Linked DNA regions of Homo sapiens: regions 2 and 3 are each linked to region 1. The links come from fine-mapping of genetic effects on gene expression. A gene starts in region 1. Each other region holds a variant in brackets. All regions are shown on one strand. Distances are between the middles of the regions.

What was found. PIP is the estimated chance that this variant, and not a neighbour inherited with it, causes the effect.
Region 2: its variant is the best candidate, but not a certain one, in a credible set for the expression of UBR2 in whole blood (INTERVAL, PIP 0.57).
Region 3: its variant is the best candidate, but not a certain one, in a credible set for the expression of UBR2 in tibial nerve (GTEx, PIP 0.65).

What each region holds. Positions count from the first base shown.
Region 1 is chr6:42,560,277-42,568,461 of GRCh38, forward strand. It overlaps UBR2 (ubiquitin protein ligase E3 component n-recognin 2), which reads left to right and starts at 3,753. Exons shown (of 47, transcript NM_001363705.2): 1 at 3,753-4,121. The coding sequence starts at 4,044. RefSeq lists enhancers at 3,315-3,394, 3,465-3,984 and a silencer at 5,017-5,146.
Region 2 is chr6:42,594,155-42,602,339 of GRCh38, forward strand. It overlaps UBR2 (ubiquitin protein ligase E3 component n-recognin 2), which reads left to right. Exons shown (of 47, transcript NM_001363705.2): 4 at 37-150. Among named protein-coding and RNA genes, the nearest start is that of UBR2, 34 kb to the left of the region's middle. The variant C/T (reference allele first, on the strand shown) is at 4,836.
Region 3 is chr6:42,692,563-42,700,747 of GRCh38, forward strand. It overlaps UBR2 (ubiquitin protein ligase E3 component n-recognin 2), which reads left to right. Exons shown (of 47, transcript NM_001363705.2): 47 at 1-943. PRPH2 (peripherin 2) reads right to left here. Exons shown (of 3, transcript NM_000322.5): 3 at 4,036-5,945. The coding sequence ends at 5,733. Among named protein-coding and RNA genes, the nearest start is that of PRPH2, 26 kb to the right of the region's middle. The variant T/C (reference allele first, on the strand shown) is at 3,249.

The sequences.
Region 1 (8,185 bases):
TTTTTTTTTTTTTGAGATGGAGTTTCACTCTTGTTACCCAGGCTGGAGTGTAGTGGCACAATCTCGGCTCACTGCAACCTCCACCTCCTGGATTCAAGCGACTCTCATGCTTCAATCTCCCGAGTAGCTGGGATTACAGGTGCCCACCACCATGCCCAGCTTTTTTTGTATTTTTAGTAGAGACAGGGTTTCATCATGTTGGCCAGGCTGGTCTTGAACTCTTGACCTCAGGTGATCCACCCGCCTCGGCCTCCCAAAGTGCTGGGATTACAGGCATGACCTCTACAGATTTTTTTGGTGGTGAGATAATCTACCCCTCTGGAGAAGACCCTCCCAAACTCTTGCCTGGGAGGTATAAGCCTGGCCACTAAGGTTCTCAGAGCCAAATGGGGAAATAAGCTAGGTTATCCCTGTTCACTATGTAGACTTTGATTCATCTCTCTTGAATGCAGTGCGGTATCCCTGTCCTCAGCTGTGTCTGGTGTCTCCCAGTCAAAAGGCCCTCAAGTGTAGTCACTCTAGAGGATAAAGCTCTAGTCTTCTTCCAGAGTAGGAAGTGAGATCTAACTTCTTGCTATACAGACTTTCAAACAATAAGCTTGCTTTTAGCATTGTCTTCACCCACTTTCAGAGTTACATGGTGCCTCAAATTTTTAAGTCTTTCAGGGTACTGCATATTAATTAGCTTGACTCAGTGTCTCTACTGCTAGCGGAGGTTTCAGCATTCTCTTAGTTACTTCTCAACCACTTGCTTTCCACCAAATTTTGGTGCTGTCATCCTCTCTTCTTTTCTTTTTTTCTCCCTTTACTGTCATGAGGTATTCAATCTGCCACATTTAACTGGAAGTTGGGGCTTAGCTCTTAATGCCCCCATGGGAACAGAAAACAAGACCCTGGGTCAAAGAAACATTGGAATTGCAACTGAGATCCTCTACATAAAGCCAGGGCTTTCAAAGGAATGTCGTATCAGTGAAAGGGTAGACTAGACAAAAAACCCACCAACTGGCATACAAAAATGACAAAGAAGCTCTTTACCTTGACTCTGAGTAGGAAAAAGAACTCTCCTTAAAAATTCATAGACAGGCCGGGCACTGTGGTTCACACCTGTAATCCCAGCACTTTGGGAGGCTGAGGTGGGTGGAACACCTGAGGTCAGGAGTTTGAGACCAGCCTGACCAACATGGTGAAACCCTGTCTCTACTAAAAATACAAAAATTAGTCAGGCATGATGGTACGTGCCTATAATCCCAGCTACTTAGAAGGTAACTATGCTCACCACTATACCACCAACGCATCTAATCCCAGCTACCTAGGAGGCTGAGGTAGGAGAATCGCTTGAATCCGGGAGGCAGAGGTTGCAGTGAGTCAAGATTGCACCATTGCACTCCAGCCTGGACAACAAAGTGAGACTCTGTCTCAAAAAAACAAAAATTATAGACAGAGAAATGGCACACAACTGAATTAATACTATTAGGGAATCTTCAAGCCTAGAAACTGACGTACAATTGGTCCTAGATACAGGATACTCCTAGAGTGCCTGGTCCTGAGTATACGATGTTTTCTAGGTTGTCTGGCCTTGCAGAAGCAAATGAAAAAGTATTTTGAAAGTATTAATACATGGAGAGTCCCACTGCTAATGCTACTAATGCTAAGTGAAGATGATCTCCAAATTCATAATTATGACACACAAGGGAAACAATTTTTTTTTGAGTCAGGCTCTCATTCTTTCACCCAGGTTAGAGTTCAGTGATACAGTCATAGCTCACTACAGGCTTGAACTCCTAGGCTCAAGTGATCTTTCCTGTCTCAGCCTCCCAAAGTAGCTAGGACTACAGACATGGGCCACCATGTTCGGCTAATTTTTAAATTTTTTTGTAGAGATGGGGTCTTGCTATGTTGCCCAGGCTGGTCTCAAACTCCTGGCCTCAAGTTATCCTCCAATCTTGGCCTCCCAAAGTTTTGGTATTACAGGTGTGAGCCACAATGCTCGGCCTGAAACAAATAATGTTAGGAAGCAAATAATGTTAAGAACAGAAATTGCCTTTACAGTCTATTAACGACTTAAATTCTATGTTAGGACAGCTCAAGAGATGTTGTTTTTGCTTCTAGGCTGGGACAATCCCAGTTTTCTTCCAAGTTGACTCTGTCCTGAGTGGATCAGTGTAAGGAAGTTGGGCAAAAAAAGAAAAATACATAGAAGAATATTTCAAGATATCTCATTATAAATATCTGTACAGATATGTGCATACTTTTTTCTGGACAGACTCATAAGACAGTGTCAAAAATGATTTTCTTTGGGGAGAGGGACTTGGGGTAAGAGGAATAGGAAGTTTTCAATTTTCCTTTTTTAAAACATTCCTTTCGAGTTTGAATTTCTGATGTTTTATATGTATATATATATATAACTTTTAAAAAGTGATAAGAAGGCTTACTTGTATTGTGAGGTTACAGGGATACAGGCAGTTTCTTATTTCCTTTTTTAAAAAACTGGTTAATATCATAGTATTGGTTTAAAAAAAATCCCAAAACAACATAAACATAAACATGTCCTAAACCTGGTCTGGCTCAGAACTTTTCCCCCCTATATGTAATTTACAACCTACTTCTGGGAATAAATTAACACACTTGACAAAAGGTATAAACAATTTTCTGACAAACTCTAGAGACTGAAGACTTCTAAGAAGCCCAGTCACCCAGCTGTCAGTCAAGAGTCTAATTACCTTTAACTAAACATAGTTTTCTTTGATAGCTAGTCTAACAATGTTTACCTATTTCTTTTTTTTTTTTTTCCTTCTTTTTTGATACAGGGTCTCAGCTGTGTCACGCAGGCTGGAGTGCAGTGGGCTGATCACAGCTCACGATGGCCTCAACTGCCTGGGCTCAAGCAATCCTCCTGCCTCAGCTTCCCGAGTAGCTGGGACTACAGGCGTGCCACCACACCTGGCTAATTTTTTGATTTTTATCAAGAGGGTCTCGCTATGTTGTCCAAACTGGTCTCAAACTCCTGGGCTCAAGTAGTCTGCCCCCCTCGGCCTCCCAAAGTGCTGGAATTACAGGCATGAGCCACCAAGCTTGGTCTGATTATCTGTAGAAATTAAATGTCTCTATCAAGAGGAAATCTTTTAATTGGCCTAATAGACTCTTTTTCCTTTGCAGCAAGATTTGTGATAAAGTTTATAAGTGGTCATCACTAAAGTTTTTGAAAAATTTTTTAAAACATGTTTTAAACCTTCAAAAAAGTGGGTAATGTTCACCTCCATTACTCGTATAAAAGATATGGGTTCGATGGATGACAGGACATAGAACCACAGGAATAGAATGTAATTCATTCATTCCTTTGACAAGTATTTGAGTGCCTACCCTATGCCAGACTGGCAAGTCCTTGAGGGTCTACCATGTGCCAGGCAGTGTTCTTGAAGCTGGGGATACAAAAATGAACAAACGAGATTCGGAGAATAAAACTACAGTTCCCACAGTATCTTTCTCTTTGGCTTTTTTCCAGGGGGCGCTGCTTTCCGCGACTGTCTTCCCATGATTCTCGTTGGGCAGAAAAGCCCCGCCCGCTTATCTGCCATTTAAGCCAGCGCCCCTTGAGAATGGACTACAACTCCCACAATGCATTCGAGGGGCACCGTGTTAGGGCGCCACCTTTTTCCCGGCTGTGCTGTACCTACAGCACCCAGAACTACAGTACCCAGAAAGCTCCGCTTCCCCTCCTGGGTGTTATTGCCCCTTTCCTGGTGCAGGACGCGGTAGTGGCCAGCGAGAGTGTCAGGCCTGGGGTTTTCTGTGTCCTTCCCTGGGTCAGGGACGAGCCAGTGACTTGACTCTTGGGCGCTAAGCTTGGGAGGGAGCGCAGGAGGCCGCTGTCCTTCCTTTCCGGTTCACGTCACCCTTCTCTCCCTCTGTTGCTCCACCTGCAGCCACTTGGACGGCTCCGGGACTGATTGCCTGGGGCAGGGGTGGCAGTCGAGGCCGCCGGGGCCGAGGTGAGGCTGCAGCTCTCCGGGCGGCGGTAGCGCTGGGGAGGAGGAGGAGAGAAGATGGCGTCGGAGCTAGAGCCAGAGGTGCAGGCCATCGACCGGAGCTTGCTGGAATGTTCGGCCGAGGAGATTGCGGGGGTGAGTGCCGGAACCCGGGCGGGTGCGTCTGCCCCTCGCAGGCCGCGCCTGTGGGGAGGAACCGACTCCTGGACGTCCTGGAGCAGCCCGACCCAGACTTGGGGAAACAGCTGTGCCGGCCCTCGCCTTGTGGGGTAATAGCCCGGGGAGGCCACCGATCCTGCCCCTCTCTTTCCATTTTCAACAGCTGCCAGAGCTGCGCTGTGCACTAACTACGTTTACTTTCCCTTTCTGCCCAGGAGAACCCACGGCTCTTCCATCATACCTCCTTTCCCCCAGCCTCCCATTAAGTCTCCCAACACATGGGCCTTTGCCCTTTATATCAGCTCTTGGAAGAGGAGAAGAGACGCTTCTTGTGTTTTTGGTATAATCGCCCTAGTTTATCTAGTTAATTGCTTTTCCTGAGACAAGCGAAGCCGTGTGCTCCTCCGACTAAACATGCCACCCTAACCGAGCCCCTCTTTTGTTTTTGGGACTGCCCCAGGCACCAAGAAGGCAAACGACACTACCCTTCGTTATCCGTTTCAGTGCTATCTTTTTTTTTTGCACCGGTTTGATTAGTTGACAACGTTGATGCATGTGTGGAAAGTTTACTGAGTATGAGAAAGTAGTCGTGGAGTCTGGGAAATTTTAAAAATATTTTTTCTAGGAGTTAGGGGTAATTGGATGGAGAACAAATGTTATATAACGTTGATAGAGCAGCTTTCAACAAATACTGTATAAGCTAAACGTGAGAACTGGTCACAGTGTAGTAGGAGCAGTTATATTCCAAACGTAAAACCGTTCAAACGCACTATTGCATTAAAACTGTAATATGAATATGCTAGTGTAAATAGCAGAGTTGTAGGAACACCCATTAGAAGAGATTGCCGAGAATGATTATGAATGGACCAAGACAGCTTGGGCCCCACCTCTAAGACCTCCAATTAAAAAGGCTGCTAGGAAGGGAGTGACCCGTGAATAAAAGTCAGCAATCTGAATGCTACGAACAAAATTTGGGATTGGGGGCACTGTGGAGCTGTTGGTCAGTGAGTAGTTATTTTGCGTGAATTGGTGAGGACATTAAGTCCGGGTAGAAAGAAATGTCAGGAGTAGAGGTGAAGACTTTAAAGAAATACGTTGTTAAATGCTGAATCTTTGCTTGTTTGGGTGTGTTTTGTTGTTGTTTGTTTTTGTTTTTGAGACGGAGTTTCGCTTTCGATGCCCAGGCTGGAGTGCAGTGGCGCGATCTCAGCTCACCGCAACCTCAGTCTCCCGGGTTCAAGCGATTCTGCTGCCTCAGCCCCTCGAGTAGCTGGGATTACAGGCATGCACCACCACGCCCGGCTAATTTTGTATTTTTAGTAGAGTTGGGGTTTCTCCATGTTGGTCAGGGTGGTCTCAAACTCCCGACCTCAGGTGATCCACCTGTTTGGGCCTCCCAAAGTGCTGGGATTACAGGCGTGAGCCACTGCGCCCTGCCTTGGTGTGTTTTTTTAAACCTACTTACTTGTTTAGCCTAGGTCTGTTTTCATTTACTTTCTACTTAATGTTGTACAACTCAAGGAATTTCTGCCTTTCGTTTATCGGAGATTTGAAAAAAGAAAATGAAAGTAGTGTTACAAGTAAACTGTTAAATAATAATGACAGCTGTTTGCTCTCCATGCCTCTTCTAATTGATATCTGTTGCTTACCTCAAAGTACTGTTTTGATTTTTTTTCTCTCACTGAATTTTGTGTCTTGGTCCAGTGATACAGGGTACAAATTCCGTTATCCCATTCTAAAAGTGCAAACTATCAAGTGATTAGAGGTTCTCCAATTTGTAGAGGCTCCTGAGGAAACTGGTTATAAAAGTAGTGCGGGAGGCCAGTGCTCCTAGTTCTTGTTCAGTGAAATTCTCAAGCAGATGCAGTAAGGAAAAATCAAGGAAAATGCAACAAAAAATTATTAATTTGGACTTCATTTGAGTTTGTGAAGATCATAATCTGAGCTACATTTTACCCTGTTTACTTTTTTTGTTTGTTTTTTTGAGACAGTCTTGCTCTGTCGCCAGGCTGGAGTGCAATGGCGCAATCTTGGCTTACTGCAACCTCCGCCTCCGGGGTTCAAGTGATTCTCCTGCCTCAGCCTCCCGAATTACAGCTGGGATTACAGGCGTACGCCACCACGCCTGACTAATTTTTGTATTTTTAGTAGACACAGGGTTTCACCACATTGGCCAGGATGGTCTCGAACTCCTGACCTCAGGTTATCCGTCCGCCTTGGCCTCCCAAAGTCCTGGGATTACAGGCGTGAGCCACCGCACACAGCCTACCCTGTTTACTTTTAAATGCCTTTCTGAACAATAAGTTTTTTTTTTTCTTTTTTTGGTAAGAGATGGGGTCTTGCACTGTTGCCCAGACTAGAGTATAGTGACATTATCATAGCTCACTGCAGCCTTGACCTCCTAGGCTCAAGAGATCCTCCTACCTCAAAAACCAATATTAAAATATAAAATTCCTTCAACTATATAACCTTAATCTTGCCTTACTTTGTGAGGACTTTACTGTCTGTATTAAGTTAAAACACCTAACATTTAAAACTGTTTTTTTCAGCTTAGGCTTCAGCTTTTTTATCACACATTTAAATTAATAAAGTTTTTTCTTAGGTTGAAAGCACATTTTAGGGAAGAGAAACAAGTAGAGAAAACAGTGATTGTAGGCTTTAGACCTCTGTCATTGGTAATTTGTTAGGATCACTTCCATTTAAAAATCACCTAATGAGCACTAGTGTCAACCTTTCCACATTTCATTTACACACCGCTTTTCTTATTCCTGTTATAAGGAGGAAGAACTTTTTGTGATCCCATCCATTCCAGCTAGTATGCCTCACAAAGAAAAGTATCTAAGCTGACTCTTTAATATTTGTAAGTTTAGGATATTACAGTGGCCCTCTCTTCTCATTCTTCTCTTTTCTTGTTAGAATTGACTCCATAAGTATGACTTTCCCAACACTTCTTGGCTCTGTTTACTTTCTATACTACATATGGTTATAGTATGTTCCAGTGAGTGATTACGGTTTTAAAAGTAAACATGCCGGGTGTGGTGGCTCTTGCCTGTAATCCCAGCACTTTGGGAGGCCAAGGAGGGCAGATCACAAGGTCAAGAGATAGAGACCATCCTGGCCAACATGGTGAAACCCTGTCTCTACTAAAAATACAAAAATTAACCGGGCATGGTGGTGCACCCCTGTAATCCCAGCTATTCGGGAGGCTGAGGCAGGAGAGTTGCTTGAACCCAGGAGGCTGGGGTTGCAGTGAGCCGAGATCGCGCCACTGCACTCCAGCCTGGGTGACAGAGCGGGACCCCATCTTTTTCCCTGAATATAAAAGAAATACAGGTTGGGAGCACTGGCTCATGCCAGTAATCCCAGCTATTTGGGAGGCTGAGGTGGGAGGACTGCTTAAGTCTAAGAGTTTGAGACCAGCCTGGGCAACATTAGCTATACCCTGTCTCTACTAAAAAAAAATAAAATAAAATAAATAAGCTGGGTGTGGTGGCATGAACTTGCAGTCCTAGCTACTCAGAAGGCTAAGCAGGGAGGATCGCTTGAGCCCAGGTGTTAGAAGTTACAGTGAGCTATGATCATGCCACTGTACTCCATCTTGGGTGATACAGTGAGACCCTGTCTTCAAAAAAAATTTTGTTTTAATAAATAATGAATTTGTTAAGTTTTATGTAGAGTTTTAGGTCTGTATTGGTTATCTTTTTGCTGTACATTTTTTAAACCGTTTTATTGAGATATAACTCACATACTGTACAGTTAAATTCAGTGGTTTTTAGTATATTCAGATTCATGCAATCATCACTATGATCAATTTTGGGACATTTTTATCACCCCAAAAAAGAAATCCTGTACCTATTGGCAGTCACTTCCCTTTCACACCTAAACTCCTGAGGTCTAATCAACTACTAATTTTTGTCTGTGTAGATTTGCCTATTCTGGATATTTCGTATAAATGGAATTCAACATATTGTCATTTGTGGCTGACTTCTTTCTCTTAGATAATGTTTTAAATATTTATCCATGTTGGGCCAGGCGCGGTG
Region 2 (8,185 bases), 34 kb after region 1:
ATTTATTGACAAGATACTTTACAATTTTTTTCCAAGATGACAACATCAGGAGGTGGAGGTTTCTGTGACTGTGGTGATACTGAAGCCTGGAAAGAGGGTCCTTACTGTCAAAAACATGAACTTAACACCTCTGAAATTGAGGAAGAAGAGGTAAAAACATTTTCACAAAGTTGTTTTTAACCCAAGTTTGAAATATTTTGAGAAATAGTCATTAGATGATGTGAGAAATGGATAAGCAAATAGTACTTCCACTATTGACAGTGACTAGTTTACTTTGAAAGTTCTTTGCATTTTGTGGATGCTGTACGGTTGCTAATAGTACACAGTTGAAATTTGGGAAATTTCATTTAATTCTGATTTTTTATTTGGTTGGGGTTTTGTTTTAAGCATACTTGAAGTTTATTTGAGTACTAACCTATGGTTGAGAGGATTATTTTTCCCATATGTGTAGACCAGTTAACCAAGTTGAGTTTTGTATATCTTTATTATAACAAAGACTTTTGGGGCCAGATAGCTTTCTTTTCTGTTACCATACATGACAGCCAATCCCAATCATCATCTCCTGGTTTCCATTATCATTGGTTATGTGATGGGACCATGTGTAGTGATGATAGCTCAGTACAAATAATTCCCACTGCTTACTGTGTTTTTCAAATTGTTGATCCTGCATTATTTTTCTTAAATGGATTTGTAATGGAATAGTAGAGTCCCACAAAATAAATGCTTAAATCTCTGCTGCTTTTTTTAAAACTTCAAAAACTTTCCATATATTTCTAATAACTCACTTAACTGTAATTATACAATGATTAAATCTTTCAATGGTATGCTACAATAGATTATGTTTTATTATTTTTAATTGACAATAATTGTACATATTTATGGGGTACAGCGTGATATTTATGGGGCACAGTGTGATATTTTGATACATATATACAATGTGTAATGAGCAAATCAGGGTAATTAACATATCCATCACCTCAAGCATTTAACATTATTTGGTTTTGGAAACCTTCACCATCCGCTCTTCTAGCTATTTGAAAATATACAGTAAATTGTTAATTATAGTCATGCTATAGTGCTGTAGAACATTAGAACTCATTCTTTCTATCTAGCTTTGTTCTTGTATCCGTTAGCCAACCTGTGGCAGTCCCTCTTCTGCTACATTTTATGACAATTTGTTGTATAGTTCAAGATCCTTCTTTCAGATTTTATTTTTAAATGGCAGGGGAATAGGTACACTCAAGTACGTCTACATTGTTAGTAGGCCTGATATAGATTTGGGGCAAGTGGACATCAATAGTCCTTCCTCAGCCAGGCAAGGTGGCTCATACCTATAATACCAATACTTTGGGAAGCCAAGGCGGGTGGATCACTTTAACCCAGGAGTTTGAGACCAGCCTGGGCAAATGGCAAAACCCCATCCCTACAAAAAATACAAAAATTAGTTGGGTGTTGTGGCACGTGCCTGTGGTCCCAGCCACTTGGGTTGGGGGTGCTGAAGTGGGATCCGCTTGAGCCATAGGAGGCAGAGGTTGCAGCAAGCCAAGATCATGACCCTGTCTTTAAAAAAAAAAAAAAAAAAGTTCTTCCTGGTACCCATATCCTACAGGTCTCAAATATATTTTATCAGAATGACCAAAGCTTTTGATGTACAAATCAAAATTTATACAAAATGATTCAGTGCTATGGAAAACATGTTTTGTTTTTCATTTGCTTTGTGAAAGGGTTCTGTAATTTGCTACAGTAAGATGCCAAGTGGTCAAGGTTCCAGATTTTTCCACTTCTATTGGAGAAGCTCCATTTTTATATAGTTGATTGGGGTTCTGTATGTAGAAATACAGGACAAATAAAGATATATTTGAAAAAAAAGAATTGTGCTTTAGAAAAAGGTTAAAAACCACTGGTATAAAACTTTAGGACTGCAGGAGAAAGTATATGTGTGTATATCCAAGCCATGTATCCAAAAAGGATCTAGTATGCAGAGTTTATATCTTACAACTCAGCAAGTAAAAAGATAACCCAATTTAAAAATGGGCAAAAGACTTGAATAGACATTTTTACAGAGAAGATATATGAATAATCAACAAACACATGAAAAGATGCTGAACATCATTAGTCATTAGGGAAATGCAAAATCAAAACCACAGTGAGATACTGCTTCACCCTCAGTAAGATGACTATTAAAGTAATAACAAGTATTGACAAGGATATAGAGAAATTAGAACCCTTGTATATTGCTAGTGGAAATATAAAATGATTCAGTGCTGTGGAAAACAGTTTGGCTGTTCCTCAAAATATTAAACATTACCGTATATTTCACACCTAGATATATACCCAAAAGAACTGAAAACCGAAGTTGAGCAAGTACATGCACACACATGTTGTAGCAATGTTGTTCACAATAGTCAAAAGGTAGAAACAGCCCAAATGTCCATCAGTGAATGAATGGATAAACAAATTGTGATAATATACATACAATGGAATATTTTTCGTCCATAAAAAGGAATGAAGAACTGATACATGCTACAACATGCATGAACCTCTAAAACATATTAAGTGAAAGACGCTAGACTCAAAAGGTCACATATTGTATGATTCCTTTTATATGAAATATTCAGAATAGGTAAATCTGTAGAGAGAAAAAACAGATTGGTAGTTGCCAGGGGCTGGGGAAGAGGAAAATGGAGAGAAATGGCTTAGTAGGTAAGGGGTTTTACTTTGGAGTGATGGAAATGTTTTGGAACTAGATTGTAGTAGTTGCACGTTATAATAAATGTACCAAGTACCACTGAGTTGTTCACTTTAAAATGGTTAATTTTATGTTCTGTAAATGTCATGTCATTTATTTGGAAAAGATACTTTAGGACTTCTGTTACCTTTTTTATCCCTGTGTTAGAGTAGACTTAAAATAATTTTCTAATGAAAAGTTTTGAATCTGCCTACATTTGCTCTGTTGGCTTTATCCTCATACATTAGTGGGATGGCTATCCAACAGTCCAAGCTCTACTTAATTTCCTGAATTTTAAGAAGACACCAGCAAGCTCCCCTGCCTAGCCAAAAGTCATACAATCCTGCCTGGAGAATGTATACTCCTGGAACTAGACAAAGAATAAAGCCTTCCAAACTCTACCATTTAATTTATATTTAAGAGTTTAATTAAGGCCAGGCGCGGTGACTCATGCTGTAATCCCAGCCCTATGGGAGGTCGAGGTGGGCAGATCACTTGACCCCAGGAGTTCAAGACAAGCCTGGGCAACATGGCAAATCCCCGTCTATACAAAAATTACAAAAATTAGCCAGGTATGGTGGCGTGCACCTGTAGTCCCGGCTATTCAGGAGGCTGAGGTAAGGGGATCACCAAAGCCAGGGGAGATTGAGGATGCAGTGAGCCATGATTGTACCACTGCCCTCCAGCCTTGGGCGACAGAGTGAGACTCTGTCTCCAAAAAAAAAAAAAAGTTTAAGAGAAATGAAGTCAGCCAGGCGTGGTGGCTGACACCTGTAATCCCAGCACTTTGGGAGGCTGAGGCAGGCAGATCACCTGAGGTCAGGAGTTCGAGACCAGCTTGGTCTCGAACATGGAGAAACCCCGTCTCTACTAAAAATACAAAATTAGCCGGGCGTGGTGGCACATGCCTGTAATCCCAGCTACTTGGGAGGCTGAGGCAAGAGAATCGCTTGAACCCGAGAGGCAGAAGTTGTGGTGAGCCAAGATTGCGCCATTGCACTCCAGCCTGGACAAGAACGAAACTCCATCTCAAAAACCAAAAAAAAAAAGAGAAATGAAGTCTTCAAGGGTATTAAGATAGCATTTTGTTTAACATACCTGTTCCCAGTAACTGTTGAACATAATTTTTTTGTCATACATTTAGCCTACATCTTCCGAAAAAGCTGGGGGAAACCTGGTGATATAGAAATGCTATGCAGGAGTTCCACAGGTCTTCTCATCTCTTTGCATTTGGGGGTGAGATATTTCTTCATTGTATAGGACAGGGTTCAGCAAGCTCTGACTCCTACAAGCCAAATCTTGTCCACAACCTGTTCTTGTGTCTGTTTTTAAATAGTTGAAAAAAATCAACAGAATTGTATTTTGTGACATGAGAAAATTATATGAAATCCAAATTTTAGTGTCCATAAATAAAATGTTATTGAAGCACAGTCATGCTTAAATTTTAACGTAGTATTTGTAGTTGTTTTCCCATTACAAACAAAATTGAGTAGTTGCAGCAGAGACCCTATAGCCTGCTAAGACTAAAGTACTATCTCCTTTACAGAAAAAGTTTGTTGACCCTAGGTGTAGGCTACTGAAAGCATTGTGTTTCGCCTACTCAGTTCCCACTCCCTAGATGTCACTAGCATCTTCCACTACAGTGACAGAAAAAAATGCCCAGCTAGGTTTGCAAATGGCCCCTTGGGGTGTGGGAGTGAGTAGGGAGGGTGGTGAGATGTACCTCTCCCATTTGAGAACCAACACATAATATGTGGTATCTCCTTTGTTAGTCTTTATAGGAGTCCATAAGGAATTTCTCTTAGGTCTCTATATTAAGAAATGTTATGTTTCTCCTGGTGTGAATCTCATAACTGATTGTGTTTCCTTTTGTTGAGACTTTTGGAAAAAGAGCCAGATGGTTGGAAACAGCCTGCCTGTAGTAGCTGTGTGAAAATTTATGTGATCTCTATCTATATATAGATGTTACCTTGACTATGGTTTATTTTCCTATCTTTATTTTCATTTACCTGCTTTTTACATCTTTTTTAATATACCACTCTATTAGGTGCATTCTTTAAAAAAATTATTTTATTTTATTTTTAGAGACATGGTTTTTATTACTGTG[C/T]TGCCCAGGCTGGTCTTCAGCTCCTGAACTCAAGCAGAGTCATCCTGTCTCAGCCTCCCAAGTAGCTGGGATGTAGATGTATTCTTAAGTTGCTGTAAATCCTATTTGGAATTAGATTTAATTAAATAAGAAATATTAACTGAACAACAACCTAAGTGAAGATTTTTGTAATCTGAAATTTCACTCACAAATGCTGCTCCCATCTGTTTGAATTCAGATCAGTAATTATTAATAACTAGATGTTAATGCTGACTATTTGGTCTATCTCATTTAATTCCCAAAACAGCCTCATAAGATAGATAATGCTGTTACCAATATTTTATAAATAATTGAGTTTTAGGCTGAGGTGGAGGATCACTTTGAGCCCAGGAGTTTGAGGTTACAGTGAGGTATGAGCCTGGATGAGAGAGACCCTCTTAAAGAAAAGAAAAAAGAGAGAAACTTGAGTTTTAGAAAGATAAAAAAAACTTGCCCAAAGTGTCCCACATAGGAAATTATGGGACTGGGATTTAAACCTATGTAGTATAGACTCCAGTAATGATGCTCTTAACACAGTACCTTATACTGGTTTTAAAAAGCATTTTTAGCAGAATTATTGCATGGTTTGGGGTTTTGTTTGGGGGTTTTTTTTGTTGTTGTTGTTGTTATGCTTTTGTTTTTGTTTTGTTTTGTTTTGTTGAGATGAGGTCTTGCTCTGTTTCCCAGGCTGAAGTAGAGTGGTGCAATCATGGCTCACTGCAGCCTTGACCACATGGACTCAAGCGATTTCTCCCCCTTCAGCCTCCCCAGTAGCTGCGACCACAGGCACATACCCTGCTAGGCTGATCTCAAACTCCTGGGGTCAAGCAATTCTGCCTCTGCCTCTGAAAGTGCTGGGATTACAAGTGTGAGCCACCACGCCTAGCTAGAATTGTTTTTTTAAATGAAAATCTAATTTTAAAAAATAATAGAGCACATTAAAGTGGTATTAATAATAGATTTATTTTTTGTAAATTGAAACGTGTGTTATTGTTAGAAAGTCAGTTTATGAGATAATTGAGGTTGTTTTGATGACTGCAGCCTCTAGTTTATTTCTATATTTTTAGTTGGGCAGTATGGAGAAAATCCTCATTCATACCTACATTGCATATGATAACAGTTAAAATCTTTATTGTAATACATGCTTGCATTTTACAAATTCAAATATTACAGGAGTATACTGCATAAAAGATAAAGTTCTCCATAATTCCTACTGCCCTCTAAAATAACCACTAACAACCTTTTTAACAACATGCCTTGCATTCTTCTAGCTTGAAAGAATAGTAAATCAAAGCAGACTCACCAACAGATGAACATTCTGTAGCATAAATATAATCAAAGAGCTAAAATTATTAGTAATAATAGATAATACAATAGGATGTCATTTATTGTTCCAACTGATTTATGCTATGAAAAGGGCAATCTGAGCAGGAATGTCTTAGTCTTTCCTGACATTTAATTTACCATCATAACATTCGTAGACTTGTACAGCTGTAGCATCTTTTCAATGCAGAAATAATTCTTTATGATGAGTGACACATTTCTTAGAAGTTAAAATTTGTGTACGGAGATGGCAGAAGAATCTGTCTAGGCCTGCCTCAAACTGGGTTACTGTAGCAAAAAAAAAAAAAAAAAAAAAATTATCAGTTGGTGTTCCAATATGGAATGTAACACATTTTAGAGTGTATTTTTTCTGTTGCCCAGGCTTGGAGAAGTGTAGTGGCAAGATCATGGCTCACTTTAGCCTCCACCTGTCAGGCTCAAGCAGTCCTCCCACCTCAGCTTCCCAAGCATGCACCACTACTCTCTGCTAATTTTTAAATTTTTCTTGTAGAGATGAGGTCTCACTGTATTGCCCAGGCTGGTCTCAAACTCCTGGGCTCAAGCAGTCCTCCCACCTCGGCCTTGCAAAGTGCTGGGATTATAGGCATGAGCCACCATGTTCGGCCTAGAATATATTTTGGAACTGACATTTTAATTCAAATAGGACATCTCTACCATGCCCTGGGATTTTTGTAAAATAGAGTTTGGAAACTGTTGGTTAGGATTCTCAAGAATTGGTGGTTGTCTCTGTTCCAGGACCATTAAAGTTTTATAAACCCTGTTTATCAAACTCTTCAATCCTTAAATGTTTTTGTCTTATGGGCTATAACTGTAAGAAATGGAATGACTGTTTGGTGAGATAATAGTACCAGGAAAGCTGAATTTTGATTCCACTTTCTATTTTGGTGTAGTATGAGGTTCATATTATTATTAATACCTACTCTTGTTTGAATCCCCAGGAGGGACCAGCTCTGATTCTTTCTGTATACAAGTGATTTCACCATGTCAGTTATTTCTAAAGCCTCCATAACAAATAGTAATAAACCTTGCTAGCAGAAACAATAAATAAAAAACTTCGCTGGGCGCGGCTGCTCACACCTGTAATCCCAGCATTTTGGGAGGCCAAGGCAGGTGGATCACCTGAAGTCAGGGGTTTGAGACCAGCCTGACCAATATGGAGAAACCCTGTCTCTACTAAAAATACAAAATTAGCCAGGCATGGTGGCACATGCCTGGAATCCCAGCTACTCAGGAGGCTGAGGCAGGAGAATCGCTTGAACCCGGGAGGCGGACGTTACAGTGAGCCGAGATTGTGCCATTGCACTCCAGCCTGGGCGACAAGAGCGAAACTCTAGCTCAAAAAAAAAAAAAAAAACCTCAATGGGACATATAAAGCAGCCTGTATGAGAAGAGTTATAGGTAAAAGGTGCTATAAACATTTGAAAAATCTGCTTCTTACTGAGAAAAGGAAATTTACCTTCTTCAAGCTCTAGACCCATCTGTTTTAGGCATCTTTGTCCTTTTTTCTCCATTCTTTTTTTTTTCTTTTTTTTTTTTTTGATGGAGTTTTGCTCTGTTGCCCAGGCTGGAGTACAGTGGCACAATCTCGGTTCCCTGCAACCTCCGTCTCCTGGGTTCAAGCGATTCTCCTGCCTCAGCCTCCTAAGTAGCTGGGATTACAGGCACCACCACCACACTCAACTAACTTTTATATTTTTAGTAGAGATGAGGTTTCACCACATTGGCCAGGCTGGTCTTGAACTCCTGACCTCAGATGATCCATCCACCTCGGCCTCCCAAAGTGTTGGGATTACAGGCGTGAGCCACCGTGCCCGGCCAAGCCACCATGCCTGGCCCTTTTTTTTTTTTCTTCTTTTCTTTTCTTTTTGAGACAGAGTCTCGCTCTGTCACTCAGGCTGGAGTGCAGTGGTGCACAATCTCCACTCACTGCAAGCTCCGCCTCCTGGGTTCATGCCATTCTCCTGCCTCAGCCTCCCAAGTAGCAGGGA
Region 3 (8,185 bases), 130 kb after region 1:
GGCTAAGGAACAGATGAGTAATAAGAGGCTCTTGGATTTTTTTAACCAATGCAACTGACCCTTTCAATCAGTTTTCTTTGAATTACATCTACAAGTTTTGTTCCACTCAGCTACCAGTCAACTAGGCATGCTCCACAGTATCACAGGAAGAAGGTCAGAAATCTGGAACTGAAGCTAAAAGAAGTGAGGATGTAGAAGCCACATTCCTCTCCAAGGTAGTGTGTGAAAGAACCGCCCCCTCTTGACAGGAGGATGACCGTCGCCATTCTTGCGTGGGACTGACTCACCCAGCTGAGAGGAGGACCAATAGAAAGAAAATTCACATTTGAGTCCACCTCTCTCCCCCTTTTTCTGGCCTTCATTCATAAGATCTGGTTGTTTGGGCTGTAGGTGGCATAATTCATGTTTATTTTGGCCTCTGTCACATCCAGTTTCTTTAGCTTTTAAGGTAAGCTTCTTTTGGCTTTTTTTCATATGTTCACCAAGCTAAAATTTAAAATAATAAGACCAGGTTTCTCTCTGTACAAGTGGATTATAAACATTTTCACCAAATCATAACAATACTCCAGCTTTCCGGTCCGACTTCCTAGGAGCCTGGAGTTAGCAAAGGTTGTCTCTGGATTTCATTCTCTGAGAATATCACAGAGCCTGGGAGAAGATGAATTTACATGAAATTGCAACATACACACCTTTTTATTTTCTGGTGTTAAGCTAGTTGTCTTTCCTACCTTACAAATCATGTTAGTTTTATGATTTGTTCCGCATGTTTTATGTTTATTGTAGAAATGTTTATATAACATACGCTTTCCATATCAGGGAAAATCATATCTGTTTAATAAATTGGCTATAACTTTAATATCTGTGGACAACTTGTAAAATTTGGAATGTATCATATGTAAAAAGTTTAAAGATATCCAAATAAATGCTTTAGGTGTTGGCATTACTTTTGGTTAGCATATATCTTTCTGTTTCATTTTACACATTTACCTGCCACAGCAAGGTGCCCGTGTCACCTTGCTACAAATATAGTGGGATATCTGTATTAGCTTTAAATTTAAGAGGGTTATATTATTATGGCCACTAGCCAAACTATCTTGACCTTCTCAGAGAAAGTGTGATCATCATTTCAGCTGATTAAGTTTCATATTCATTAGCCATGACAGCGTGTGACCTTTGTGGACCATTTTGGAACTCAAATCACTGGGAAACAGGGCACTCCAAGACCTGTGTCTGGGTTTAAACTCTTGTTCATCCTTACCTGGTGATCTCAAGGTCCTTGTCCTTACACACTCCCCTAGTGTGCTGGCTGGTTTTTCAGGGCTGTTGGAGGTTTTTTTTTTCTTTTTTTTATGACCACTTCCTGCTTTTGAGAGAGAGACATAGAAAGGCAGCTACACTGTCTTCCTAGGGGAGTCATTGCCCATGAGAATTCTGTTTTTTTTGAAATCCTCTTGAGAGCATCAAACTAAAACAGCAAGGTTTCCATTGCACTCACCCTGCCTCCTGGTCAGTAACACTGCTCCCAGCCTACTGCCTTCACCACTCTTGTCTTTAGTTCCAGGAACTCATGAAGCCCCTTCTGACATGCTCCTCCCTGTCTTCCTACTCTTGATTTTGGTGTGGTGGTGGTTTGGTTTGGTTTTTTTAAAGAGACAGGGTCTTGCTTTGTCCCACAGGCTGGAGTGCAGTGGCACAGCCTTGGTTCACTGCAGCCTCAACCTTCTGGGCTCGAGCAATCCTCCCACCTCAGCCTCCCAGTAGCTGGTACTATAGAGGCACATGCCACCACACCTGGCTAATTTTTGTATTTTTTTTGTAGATACAGCCGCGCTATGTTGCCCAGGCTGGTCTTGAACCCTTGGGCTCAAATGATTCTCCCGCCTCAGCCTCCCAAATGCTAGGATTATAGGTGTGAACCACTGTGCCTGGCCTGTTCCTACTCTTGTTTTTTAAGTCACATTTATTGAGGTATATTTTACAAACAGATTAACTCTTTTTAGTGTACAGTTTTATACATTTTAACAAATGCATACAGTTAAACAACCACAATCGAGAAATAGAACAATTCCATCTTCCCCAAAAGTCCCCTTTGTAGTCAGCTTCTTGCCTCATCCTGGCTTTCAGCTACCAGTGTTTTTCTCTCCCTTTGTTTTGTCTCTTCCCGAATGTTATATAAATGGAATTGTATCATATGTAGCATTTTGAGTCTGGCTTCTCACTAAAGAAGAATGCATTCGGGTCCTCCCTGTTCCTTTGGATTGCTGAGTAGCATTCCGTTGTACAGACTTCTGGGCAGTTGCCAGATGAAGGGCATTTGGGTGAGTTTGGGTGATTGTTTTGGTGATTACTGCTACAAACATTCATGGATGGGTTTTTGTACAAACCTGAATTTTCACTTCCCTCAGGTAAATAGCTAGAAGTTGTCCCTTACATCTTAATCCTCCATTTGATGCCATCCTGAGAGCTCAGCATTCTCTAATCTGTAACTTTGCTGTTTACAGTCCTCTGTGATGGACAGGATAAAATGCTGTCAGGAGTTAAGAACTGACATGTTTTTCCCCTTCCAGCCAATCTATCCATTGTGACCTGGGAAGGCACTTGTCTCTTCCCTGGACTTTCATAGTATTGGACAGACACTTTTCTCTTCCTAACACAGTGGTGCTGCCTGCCTGCGCTGTCATTGAGAGCCATCTTTTTAGCCAGTCGTGGATGAAAAGCCCTGTCTTGGTCCACGATTTTCCCTGGCTAAGCTGCAAACATGCTGGCCTAGTGTAACAGGTGCCCGGACGAGGAGGGGCAGGGGAGCGTGCAGAGCGGGCACCTAATCTTATTAACCCATATTAAGGTTACTAGGGGTTTATTTACTGGCAGCTCAGTCCCAGGCTTGAAGCATGTTGTAAAGAAGCTGTGGGTTCTGGAACTGAGGCCAAAAATTCTAGGACACAGCTTCCCAAATATTCAGGATAGTCATCACCTGTTTCTTCACCGTGGAGTGAGCATTTTAAAAATGAAAGTCCTAAGGCCCTGTCTACCCCCACCCCATCCCGGGGCTATGCTGGCAGAACTTTAAAAGCTAGCTGGGCCAGGTGGCTCACTCCTATAATCCCAGCACTTTGGGAGGCCAAGGCGGGCAGATCACCTAAGGACAGGAGTTCGAGACCAGCCTGGCCAACATGGTGAAATCTCATCTCTAATAAAAATACAAAAATTAGCCGGGCGTGGTGGCAAACGCCTGTAATCCCAGCTAG[T/C]AGGGAGGCTGAGGCAGGAGAATCACTTGAACCCAGGAGGCGGAGGTTGCAGTGAGCTGAGATCATGCCATTGCACTCCAGCCTGGGCAACAAGAGCAAAACTCCATATTTGAAAAAAAAAAAAAAAAAGTAGGCTGGGTCCCTCAGGAGAAAAGGATTTACACCAGCCCAAGGAAAGACTGAAGTTACACACAAGCAAAAACCTGATAGCAGAGACTTCCTGGGCACTGGTAGGTGACCAAAAGGGATGGTCCAGGTTTCTCTCGCAACTACCGGCTACCTGAGAAGACCTGTTAAAATGCAGTTAACCCTAAGCCTGCTCCGAACCAATGAGTGAGATTTATTGTAGAGTCAATGCACTCTTGGTCCTCTCAACAACCTTCAGATTCTCAGGTTGTTCACATTTGCTCCTATAACCTGGCCCCATAGAGACTCATATTTCCCTGTTTGAGGAAATAACGTTTTGGCCAGAGGAGAAGAAAAAATGGCTTGGAGTTTTGCCTAAATTTCTACATTAAAATTCCATGTATTCAGCTCTGGTTCAAACTCCAGCAAATGCTGAGATTATTTGGATATAATAATAGTCACTGTTGTAATAGTCACCGTTCTTACAGGTAAGAGATGGCAAGATGGAGAGATGTGATACCCAAGCCATGTTTATAACAACGATTGTTACCAATGCTTCCCTTAGGGTGGGTTTCTTTTCTTTTTTGGCAAATACTAGCGGTAGTAGGGGATTCTGATATATGTTGTTGAATGGGCTTAAACAGTCATTTAACAAAAGTGATTTTCATACAGTATGAATTTTAATTATCTATTGACAGCTGTTAACAGCATAGTTACACTTGTGGGCCTAGAGCAGCACTTTCACCGTGGTTCTCAGCACTCTTGAGAGATAGCAAGAGCTCAGGGACCTTTGCCAAAGATGGCTGGCTCAGCATTTTTTCAGTATGGATCATTCCTTGGCCTCAACGAGATTCAGAAATCTAATTAAACTTGGGACCAACGTCTGACAGGGTGTCCAAACATCTTGGATCTGGTCTTCTGCTTGGGGGAATTAAGCCCAGAACATACCCCAGCAGCACCAGAAGTCTTATTTTCTCTACACTGAAGTTCTTAGGACAGCAGAGAACCCAAACTCAGTCCAAAGTAACCTATTCCCAAACACCATCGGTCAGAAGCAGAGGTAAGTTATGGACTGTTCCCTTTCTGGTTTTTGCCTTCTGGCCTCGGTCTCCAGCCAGGTAGGAACGAGCTCTCTTGAATGTTCATCCAACTGGAGGAATTATGCTGGGCCCTGCCTTGGTCTGGTCACCAGGGCTTGGGAAGTCAGCAAAATCATTCTCTCCTTCCCCTGAAAGCTTCTCTTTCCTAAAGAAAGTGAAAACTCCTGTATTTGCTAGCTCAGGAAGATGGGCTATCTCAAAGAATCTCCTTTGATGCAGAAGCATTCCAGAAATAGTGTTTTTCAAGATGGGTATCTGGGGGGAAGAAACGGAAGAAGCTCCCAGAGGATTCCTTGCCCTTTGCTGTGGACAATTAGTGTTGTCCATGGGGCTGTGATGGCCACCTGTGTGGGTGTCCCTGGGCCCACCAAGAGCTGAGGCCTGGTCTCCAAAGGGTGGACTCATGTCTGATTGTTGCTCCTCTTCCACAGCAGGGCAGCAGCCTACCCCACTGCTTCCACCGATGAGCCACAGGAGATCACCTGGCACTTTAGGGGTGGTGTGGTGCTGGGACACGCCAACAGCCTGACTTCCTCAACCCGTGGTTCACTCCAGACTCAGTGACCGAGGGCATGTGAATGGGACACAAAAGCAGGCCTTTCACTGTGTTTTTGGTGGGGGATAAAATCCCCTGCCTTGAAATTCTCTTGCTCCATGATTAAAGAATCCTGTTTAGAGCCCTCAATGCCTTAAGAGTCCATTATTCTTAGAAAAGCGTAACTTTCCCCCAACTTCTGGCATTAAGCAAACGGCCAACCTGTCAATCTTGGCATTAAAAAAAAAAAAAAAAGACAACATGGCCATTTTTCAGATTTCTGTGCTTATGCACCAAGTGACACTTTGGATAGAGTGAAGCAACATGGAGCTCATAAGAGGTAAATTCTAAAAGGGGAGCAGCCCTCAGATACGGCCAGTGGCCATAGGGTGGGACTAAATCCGTGTGAGAAAGATGGGTCCTGGGCTAGTCGTCTGAGACAGCCCCCGAGTCACCAGGAGGGCATATCCTAGGGCAGCGGGCCTGAAGGGAGCTTCACTCACATTCACATTAGCTTCATTCACATTTTGGGTCAGTCATTCAACAACTGTGTGTCAAATGCTTTTAGGGACCCTAAACTTAAATTCCACCGTCAGGGAGAGTCTCTGTAAGATGGTGCCCTCCTTGGGAGATTCAGACTTTCGGAGTTGGATGAGGGGGAGATCCACGTTTCTTGGAGTGCACTATTTCTCAGTGTTCGGGAGGGGAGGGGCCCCAGGGCCCTCAGCCAGCCTCTGGGGCCTGGCCTGCGTCTGCGCCCTCGGCTTCCACCTGGTTGCCCTTGCCCAGCTTCTTCACACTCTCCAGAAAGGCCTTCCAGGTCTCCGGCACGCTCCTCTCCAGCAGCCAGCCCTGGCTCTCGCTCTCAGATTCCTCGGGGTTGGACACACCATCCAGCGACGTCTGTAGGTAGCGCAGCCCAATTGTAATGGTCACCTGGTGGTGGGAGAGGAGATTTAGAGGCAATCTGGGAGAATCGCTGGGAGCTGGACCATTAGGAAACCACAGGAGCCTCAAATTGAGGGTCCCAGAGAGGACTCAACCTGAGCACTGTGGAGTGTGGGTTGGTGACAGCCTGCCCCACGCTGCCCTGTCCTCAGTGCTCAACACACCTGACTCTTCTCCAGCCTCATGTCAGACCCCTCTCCTCCTCCCTTTCCAGCCATCCTGGGCTGCTTCGGATTCGCCCATGCCCCCTACTTTCTCCCCTCTAGGTCTTTACCATCTGCTATGCTCTCTGCCTAGAACCTTGCTCCTCTCCACGTTCATCTGTTAATTCATCTTCAGCCCTTGGTGAGCTCCCCGGCAGCTCATCCTCCCTCCCCATCCCCTCGGGTCGCCCCCATCCCAGGTGCATTATTCCTGGGTGCCTTCACCTCTACACCCCATTGCTTGGCACATATTGGGTAGTTCAGTAACTGCCTTGGGTGGAATTAAGAGGTCACCTCCTTTTCTGCATCTGATGTGTGGTACTTCTTTTTTTTTTTTTTTTTTTTTTTTGAGACAAGTCTTACTCTGTCACCCATGCTGGAGTGCAGTGGCGTGGTCTCAGCTCACTACAAACTCTATCTCCTGTGTTCAAGGAATTCTCATGCATCAGCCTCTTGAATAGCTAACGTTGCAGGTGCCTGCCACCATACCTGACTAATTTTTGTATTTTTTTGTTGTTATTGTTGTAGATATGTGGTTTCCCCATGTTGCCAGCTGGCCTCGAACTCCTGGCCTCAAGATCCACCCGCCTCGACCTCCCAAAGTGCTGGGATTACAGGTGCGAGCCACCATGCCCAGCCCTTCCATTATTTTGATGAGCACAGTGATGAATGGATGCTGGTAAAAAATAATTTGGATTTGTTCACTAGCATTCACTGTGTGGCAGACTTGGTGCCAAAATGCCTGGGTTCAAACCCGGGCACTTAGCCAGCCGTGTGACCAGGAAACCTCACTTTATTCATCCGGTTTGCAGATTTTCAGATGAAGTGGTGCCCACCCCGTGTGGATACTGTGCCACTTTAATATGTGTAAAACACACAGGCCAAGTGCAATGGTGCATGCCTGTAATCCCGGCACTTTGGGAGGCCAAGGTGGAGGGAGGATTGCTTGAGCTCAGGAGTTCGAGACCAGCCTGGGCAACATAGCGAGACCTCATCTCTACTAAAAATAAAAATAAAAATAATTGCCGGGTGTGGTGGCGCGTGCCTGTAGTCCCAGCTACCCGGGTACTTGGGTAGCCAAGATGGGAGGATCTCATGAGCCCCAGAGATGGAGGCTGCAGTGAGCCATGACTCCACCACTGCACTCCAGCAAACACCACCACTGTACCTAGTGCACAGTAAGGACCAACAGAAGAGCAGAAGAGTCAGCTGTAGCTGATAATTAGCTTATTGTTTTCACTTTTTTTTTTTTTTGAGATGGAGTCTCGCTCTGTCACCCAGGCTGGAGTGCAGTGGCACGATCTTGGCTCACTGCAATCTCCGCCTCCCGGGTTCAAGCAAGTCTCCTACCTCAGCCTCCCGAGTAGCTGGGATTACAGGCGTCAAAAACTTGGCACCACGCCTGGCTAATTTTTATATTTTTTGTAGAGACAAGGTTTCGCCATGTTGGCCAGGCTGGTCTCAAACTCCTGACCTCAGGTGATCTGCCCGCCTCAGCCTCCCAAAGTGCTGGGATTACAGGCGTGAGCCACCACACCCTGTTTTCATTTTTCTATAATATATTCCGTATATTCCGTTAGCCACTTGTTTCTGTACAAATTCCCGGCTTGCTCTCCTCCACTTCTTTGTATGGCATAGCAAACTCTACAAGAGGATGAAGCTGCTCCCTGAGGGCAGGGATGGCCCTGACTCATCTGGCTCACTCAGAATCCCAGCACCTAGAACAGTACCAGGTAGGGGGAGGGCCTCAGTAAATCTCTTTTGAATGAATGCTCTGGGACATTTTATAATTATGGCAGTAGATAATAATAACTGATAGAGTTTTAGATTTATGTTACTGCTATTGTCAACTGGAAGTTGAATAAATATTTTTACAGCAGAAAAAGTCACCTCCTCCATGAAGTCCTCTTGATGTGAACGCGTCCACTCTGATCCCCTCCTGCTTTCCTGAAGGAGGCTCTCTGCACTGTGAGTTTTGCACTTGGTAGTGATCCTCCCTTTGGCTCATAAATTAGACATCATCTC